Linked DNA regions of Homo sapiens. The protein of the gene in region 1 purifies or fractionates together with the protein of each later gene. This does not show direct contact. Each region holds a gene or a part of one and is shown in the gene's direction. Other genes may lie near its edges.

Region 1 (3,819 bases):
ACGCACTCACACACACACTCACACACGCACTCACACACACTCACACACGCACTCACAGACATACAAAGTGAGTGAAGAATCAGCTATTTAAAACATATAGCGCTGACGGCCGGGCATGGTGGCTCCTGCCTGTAATCTCAGCACTTTGGGAGGCCGAGGTGGGTGGATCACTTGAGATCAGGAGTTCGAAACCAGCCTGGCCAACATAGTGAAACCCCATCTCTACTAAAATTACAAAAATTAGCTGGGTGTGGTGGTGCATGCCTGTAATCCCAGCTACTTGGGAGGCTGAGGCAGGAGAATCACTTGAATCCAGGAATTGGAAGCTGCAGTGAGCTGAGATCATGGCACTGCACTCCACTCTGGGCAACAGAGTGAGACTCCACCTCAAAAAAAAAAAAAAAGAAAGAAAGAAAGAAAAAAAAGAAAACAAAACAAAACAAAAGAAGGGCCAGACGTGGTGGCTCACGCCTGTATGTAATCCCAGCACTTTGGGAAGCTGAGGCAGGTGGATCACCTGAGGTTAGGAGTTCAAGACCAGCCTGGCCAACATGGTGAAACCCCATCTCTACTAAAAAATACAAAAAATTAGCCTGGTGTGGTGGTGGGTGCCTGTAATCCCAGCTACTTAGGAGGCTGAGGCAGGAGAATCACTTGAACCCAGGAGAAGGAGTTTGCAGTGAGCAAGAGAGATCGCACCATTGCACTCCAGCCTGGGCAACAAGAGCGAAACTGTATGAAAGAAAAAAGAAAAAAGAAAAAATATGTATATAGCACTGAAGTAGTCATTATGGGAAAATGAGAATCTTGCTGGACTTCACACTTATGAGTTTAAAACTTTCTTTGTCTACAATTTCCTGCCCCCATATCCCCCTTCCTGCTAGAATATCAGTAGCAAAAGGGCCTGTCTTGATGATGGCTCTATTCTTTCTTTGCACCTGGAACGGGGCTGGGCACGTAGGTCCACAGTGGCCGTTTGTGAGATGAAAGAATGGCCTCAGTGCTGAAGATCTCAGAAGCTCTTGCAAACTGCTGACCTGAGCCTCTTAGATGGGAAACTGGGGCTGGGAGATGGGCCCAGGGGCTCCAGGCCTGATGACTGCCTGCGTGGGCCAGCGCTGGAGAGGAGGGTCCGGCTGCATCGGAGGGGCTGGGGGCTGGGAATGCCGATGGCCGATGACCAACCCCTGCTTACGTGCACAGGCCCACGACAATGATGAGCCGGGCACCAACAACAGCCGTCTGCTCTTCAACCTGCTGCCTGGCCCCTACAGCCACAACTTCTCCTTGGACCCTGACACAGGGCTCCTCAGAAACCTGGGGCCCCTGGACAGAGAGGCCATCGACCCCGCCCTGGAGGGCCGCATTGTGCTGACAGTGCTTGTGTCTGACTGCGGCGAGCCTGTCCTCGGCACCAAAGTCAATGTCACCATCACTGTGGAGGTAAGGCCTCGCTTAGCCAGGATGGGCCTGGGGGCCTCCCAAGCCGATAGCCAGCCCCTCCAGCTTGAGTCACACTTCTGCCCTCTGCAGCCAGCCTGCCTGGGTTACAATCCCGCTCACTCGTATGGCCCCAGGCAATTACTCAACCTCCCTAGGCACTCAGGCTCCTCATCTATAAAACGGGGGTGAAAAAGGTTAAAGATTAAGTGAGTTAATGAATGGAAAGTGCTTGGTAGAGTGCCTGACCTATAGACAGTATCAGTGAATATCAGCTCTAATTGTCACTCATAAAGTCCCACCTGAAACCCTCCTGTCTCCCTGCCACCATTGAAAAGCAAAGGGAAGGGGTGAAAATCAGCATTGCTGGTGTCTATTGCACATCAGGGCATCCGCCAAGGTTGGGATGGTTATTACCATTTTGTTTTTATTTATTTATCTATTGATTTATTTATTTTTGAGACAGGGTCTCCCTTTGTCACCCAGGCTGCAGTGCAATAGTGCCATCATGGCTCACTGCAGACTCAACCTCCCAGGCTCAAGCGATCCTCCTGCCTCAGCCTCCTGAGTAGTTGGGACTATAGGCATATGCCACCATGCCTGGTTAATTTTTTTATTTTTGTAGAGATGGGGTTTTTCCATGTTGCCCAGGCTGGTCTTGAACTCCCGAGCTCAAGCGATCCACCCGCCTTGGCCTCCTAAGTAGCTAAGACTAAAGATGCGTGCCACCATGCCTGGCTAATTTGGCTAATTTTTAAAATTTATTTTTCATAGAATCAGAGTCTCACTTATTGTCCAGGCCAATTTTGAACTGTTGGCCTCAAGCGACCCTCTCAACTCAGCCTCACAAAATGCTGGGATTACAGGCATAAGTCACTGAGCCCGGTTTATTACCGTTTTATTGATTGAGCAACTGAGGCGGGCCTAGTTGCTGTGGCTCATGCCAAAAACCTCAGTACTTTGGGAGGCCAAGGTGAGAGGATTGCTTGAGCCCAGGAGTTTGAGACTGGGCTGGGCAACATAGCGAGACCCCATCTCTACTAAAATAAAAAATTAGCCAGGCATGGTGGCATGTACCTGAAGTCCCAGCTACTTGGAAGGCTGAGGCAGGTGGATCATTTCAGCCCAGGAGGTTGAGGCTGCGGTGAGCTATGATCATGCCACTGCAATCCAGCCTGTGAGACAGAGCAAGACCCTGTCTCAAAAAAAGAAACTGAGGCACAGAGAGGTTCAGTACCTTGCCTGGGGGTCACAAAATTGGGTTTTGACTTCAATCAGTCTGGTTCTAAGGCTGCCACCAGCCCACAAGGCACCTTCCTCTGGAACAGTATTGTGACAAATGTGCACCTCTGCCGTGTCTGTGATGTGGATGGCACCCCATAGGGTTGTGCAGTGCACAGCCTGCACCACTGCACATAGCAGCCCTGTGTCCCCTGGACTGGGATGTGCCATTTTCACACAAGGGTCAGAGAGTGAGACCTCAGAAATGAAGAAAACGAAGCAGAATGAGGACTTGCTGGTTGTCCTTAGGGTGGGAGGGCTGCAAAGAGAGAACTTCATTTCCTGAGTGAACAGGTTTCTTCACCCCTGTGAGCCGTCCTCACAATTGCCCTATTAGTGGGGACTACTACCCCATTTTGCAGATGAGGACACTGAGGTCCAGAGAGGTCAAGGTCACACATGAGGCAGAGGTGGAGCAAGATGTGACTCAGTGCTCTTATCCACTCCTGTGAGTTAGGGTGACCTTGAGAATGCAGCTGGTCTTGTGCGTGGAGCCAATGATGTCATCGCTGGGAAATTAGCAGCAGAAAAGACATCTAGCTAAGGTGCAAGAATGTTGTCTTCCAAATGTTCATTCTAGGGTTATTCAGAAAAACAAACACCTGTTATGTGACCCACAAACCTGGGAAGGGCTGGAGTGCTCAGGGCATCCCCCAAGCACATGCCAGTGTTAGGAGACATAGGGGAGGGCAGAGTCACCTCCAGGCTGTGACAATAGTTGCAGGGCTCCAGCTGTGCCCAGTGGGCTAGGGCTGGCCACAGAGGTGAGAGCCAAAAACAGCTGGTGTCTGAGGCAGGAGCAGGTCTAAGCTTCTGCAGGTCCCCGGAGCCCAGCTCTGACTGAGCACAGAGCTGGTGTTGTGGGCTCAGTTGTGTGCAGGAGGGACAGGGGTAGGAGGGGACAAGGGAAAGTGTGGGCCTTGGAGCCTTTGTGGACATATAATGGTATTGGTGCCAACACAATAAATCCGAGAGATGGGAGTCAAGCTGGGCCAGGCAGGGTCGCAGGTGGGGACCCAGAACTGTGCTTCTAGAAAGCAGGGTCTAGAACAAGTCCTGAGCTGTGGTCAGAGAAACAGGAAGCAAGCAGGGCTTCCT
Region 2 (3,819 bases), on another chromosome or scaffold:
TGGTTTCTGTATTAGTCTCAAGGGTCTTCTAAGTAGTGAGAAAGTTATGAGGTATAGATAAGAAAATCATTAGTTTGACTCTATTTAGCCCGAGTATGTTTTCTAGGTAAAAATGGATATTAAAAGACTTAATTTTAGTTTTTGTTTCTGGTAGTAACCAAAAATTGTCTTGATGGTGGTGGGAGGACTGCTCTGATGGAAAAATCTAAGCCATTTAATGTATTTGGTTTAGCCCTCTCTGTTTATTTCTTTTATAGAAAGGAAGAAAACTGAATTATACCAAGAGTTAGGTCTTCAAGCCAGAGATTTGAGATTTCAGCATGTAATGAGTATCACAGTCAGAAACAATAGGATTATCATGAGAATGGAGGTAAAATATTTTATTTTCATCTATGTTTCTCCAATACAATCTTATAAAAGTTACCTTCTAACTATCTTGATTAGTATCTAGGTTAAAAGTAATTTTGGAATAGAAATAGCTACCTGAAACATAGGATGTTTTATAGCTTAATATGCTATTATGAGTAGAACTCATTTTATATGGATTATATGCACATGTTCAATAGGCATAACACTGCTGTGTTTTAAGTTGGAAAAGCTCTGACTGTGGTGTTCATTCTCACTGTTGGGATTTACTCTCTAGTTCTGGAAACTATAAGACAATCCTGATTTATAATAGATATATATCCAATTGTGTACAGTTACATGTAATTATAGTATAACCTGAGCTACCAAAAATGTATTCTGGCTTTCTAAATAGCACAGGAATAGACATTAAATTTTATAGCCTTAATTTTTTTTTTGAGATGGAGTTTTGCTCTTGTTGCCCAGGCTGGCACGATCTTGGCTCACTGCAACCTCCACCTCCCAGGTTCAAGCAATTCTCCTGCCTCAGCCTTCTGAGTAGCTGGGATTACAGGCATAAGCCACCAAACCCAGCTAATTTTGTATTTTTAGTAGACATGGGGTTTCTCCATGTTGGTCAGGCTGCTCTGAAACTCCCGACCTCAGGTGATCCACCTGCCTCTGCCTCCCAAAGTGCTGGGATTACAGGCATGAGCCACCGTGCCTGGCCAGTTTAAATTTTTTTAATGGAAAACTTTCTGAAATATATTGTATTTTCCCTTACCTATTCAGAGCATGCCAAATAATAATTTGACTTTCTTTAGTGATTCAGAGTTAATGTGGGTTTCAGTTATTTTGGTGGGCTAATGTTTAGGTTCAAAAATAGATGAATGGTATTGGCCCTGTAGTGGGTATGAGACTTTCTTCAAAGAGTCTTTGATGGCAGATTTTTGTTCATTTTTCTAGAACTAATCAAAATAATAAAAAATGGGCCAGTATTGGTAGCATGTGCCTTTAGTCCCAGCTACTCAGGAGGCTGAAGTGGGAGGGTCACCAGAGACCAGGAGTTTGTGACCAGCCTAAGCAACATAGCAAGATCCCATCTCTAAAAATAAATAAGTAAATAAAAAATACTTTATCAAAAATGAAGCAGTCTTCTCCCATGTGATTTTCTTCAGAAATATTCTCTACTCTTGGAATCAGTAGCTAGCATTCTTCAAAACAGTGTCTCTTTCATGGAGAGACAGACAGGTATGTGAAAAAGCAAATTCAGCAGAATGATAATTGTGTAATCTAACTGGTGGGTATATGGTGTTCACTGCAATCTTTCAACTTTTCTGTATAAAAATTTTCATGAGGCTAGGTTGTGGTGGCTCACATCTGTAATCCCAGCACTTTGGGAGGCCGAGAGGGGTGGATCACCTGAGGTCAGGAGTTCGAGACCAGCCTGACCAACATGGTGAAACCCCGTCTCTACTAAAAAATACAAAAATTAGCCAGGCATGGTGGCGGGTGCCTGTAATTCCAGCTACTCAGGAGGCTGAGGTAGGAGAATAGCTTGAACCCTGAAGGTGGAGGTTGCAGTGAGCCGAGATTGCCCCACTGCACTCCAGCCTGGGTGACAGAGCAAGACTTCCATCTCAAAAAAAAAAAAGAAAAAAAAATTCATGATAGAATGTTGGAAAAATGTAAAAATAGAAAATTATCTCTAATTTCTATATCACTGATAAAGTGGCTACCTTTATCTACTTTTAACATACAAGATAACCAGTCTTTTTAGAAAAAATTCTAATTTCATATTGTTCTAAATTAGAGTAGTAAGGCTATGTTTCATCTTAATTTCAGATTTTGTTTATATGCTTTAGTGGTGTTTTAAAAAGGAAACTTCCATTTGTGCCAAACTAATTATGATTAAACTAAATCTTTTCTAAAAGTCTGCTCAATACCTGACTTTTAGGAAGACCTTATCTTGTTCCCTTTATTTATTTATTTATTTTTTCCAAAAAAGAAAGACGGAGTCTCGCTCTGTCGCCAGGCTGGAGTGCAGTGGCACAATCTCAGCTCACTGCAAACTCCGCCTCCCAGGTTCAAGCGATTCTCCTGCCTCAGCCTCTGAAGTAGCTGGGACTACAGGTGTGGGCCACCACGCCTAACTGATTTTTGTATTTTTAGTAGAGACGGGGTTTCACCATGTTGGCCAGGATGGTCTCGATCTCTTGACCTCATGATCCACCTTCCTCAGCCTCCAAAAGTGCTGGGATTACAGGCATGAGCCACCATGCCCGGCTTTCTGGGGGTATTTTTTGGTGTTTTTTTTTTTGTTTTTGTTTTTTTTTCATGATTACCCCAGAAGTCTTAGTAAATATATAATTTATGTGAATAATTCCAGTTTTATTGAGAGTGAGTTAGCAGTATCAAGACATATATTTTTTAAGTTTCTTTTCTTTTGAAAAAAAAAACCTTGATTTTTTTGAAAAACAAAAATGAACACTGATTTGGTTTAGTCTTAATCCACAATTAGTAAAGTATTAAACCAAATTTTATGAATGTTCTTTTTTCCTACAGCTCTACAATTTGCATATATATATGTATGTATACATATATATGTATATACATGCATGTGTGTATATACACTCACATATTTATATGTTTTGGTTTTTTTTTTTTTAACAGTATTTGAAAGCTGTGATAACTCCAGAGTGTCTTCTGATATTAGATTATCGTAATTTAAACTTAGAGCAATGGCTGTTCCGGGAACTCCCTTCACAGTTGTCTGGAGAGGGTCAACTCGTTACATACCCTTTACCTTTTGAGTTTAGAGCTATAGAAGCACTCCTGCAATATTGGGTAAGTCTGTTTTTATTTAGCTTCTTGGGTTTATTCTGATTTTGAAATGTCATTGAGTGGGAAGACAAGTTGGGGTATTGTTTCAATGGCATGTCCCCTGACCACATCCTGCCCCGAAACAAGTCGTCTCTAAGGATCCTACATGGAGATATCACTTAATTCTTAAATGTTATGACCCAGTCAAATAGAACTAAAGACTCTATGTATATTATAAAAATGCTTGACATGTGATAATTATTTTATTAAATCATTTCATCAAGTCATTTTTTGATTTGTTTGTACAATCCTTTGTTTGAGCCAGGTAAATGATGCATCTTTTTGAGACCTAGATTGACATAGGAATCACGCACAGTTCTTCCAGTGACTCCTCCTTTAAATTAAGAGTCCTTAGATGTCTGAGACTCCTGTCAGGCTCTAAACAAGGGTGGTTCTCTGCTTCCCTGACCCCACAAATCTTTCATTATCTTTTCTTCCTCCTGTTAAGTCAGGATGGTACTGTTCAGGAACTGGCTACATGCAAGAGTTGGTGCTGGGAGCATACTAACCAGAGTGGGAGGAGGAGAGAGGGTAGAGAGGACATGAGGTGCATTGGGTTGGGTGAACCTGGCACACTTTTCTTTTGTCTGC

The links.
Region 2: the proteins of CDHR2 (region 1) and MRS2 purify together in Homo sapiens (affinity purification with mass spectrometry; one large-scale study listed by BioGRID and IntAct). This does not show direct contact.

Annotation. Positions count from the first base shown.
Region 1 is NC_000005.10:176,580,140-176,583,958, forward strand, and holds part of CDHR2 (cadherin-related family member 2 precursor), read left to right. Parts: intron 1-1,203; coding exon 1,204-1,443; intron 1,444-3,819. UniProt on the Homo sapiens protein: Intermicrovillar adhesion molecule that forms, via its extracellular domain, calcium-dependent heterophilic complexes with CDHR5 on adjacent microvilli. Thereby, controls the packing of microvilli at the apical membrane of epithelial cells.
Region 2 is NC_000006.12:24,409,204-24,413,022, forward strand, and holds part of MRS2 (magnesium transporter MRS2 homolog, mitochondrial isoform b precursor), read left to right. Parts: intron 1-257; coding exon 258-370; intron 371-1,523; coding exon of another isoform or gene 1,524-1,596; intron 1,597-3,018; coding exon 3,019-3,192; intron 3,193-3,819. UniProt on the Homo sapiens protein: Magnesium transporter that mediates the influx of magnesium into the mitochondrial matrix and regulates magnesium metabolism. Also permeable to calcium, sodium and potassium ions.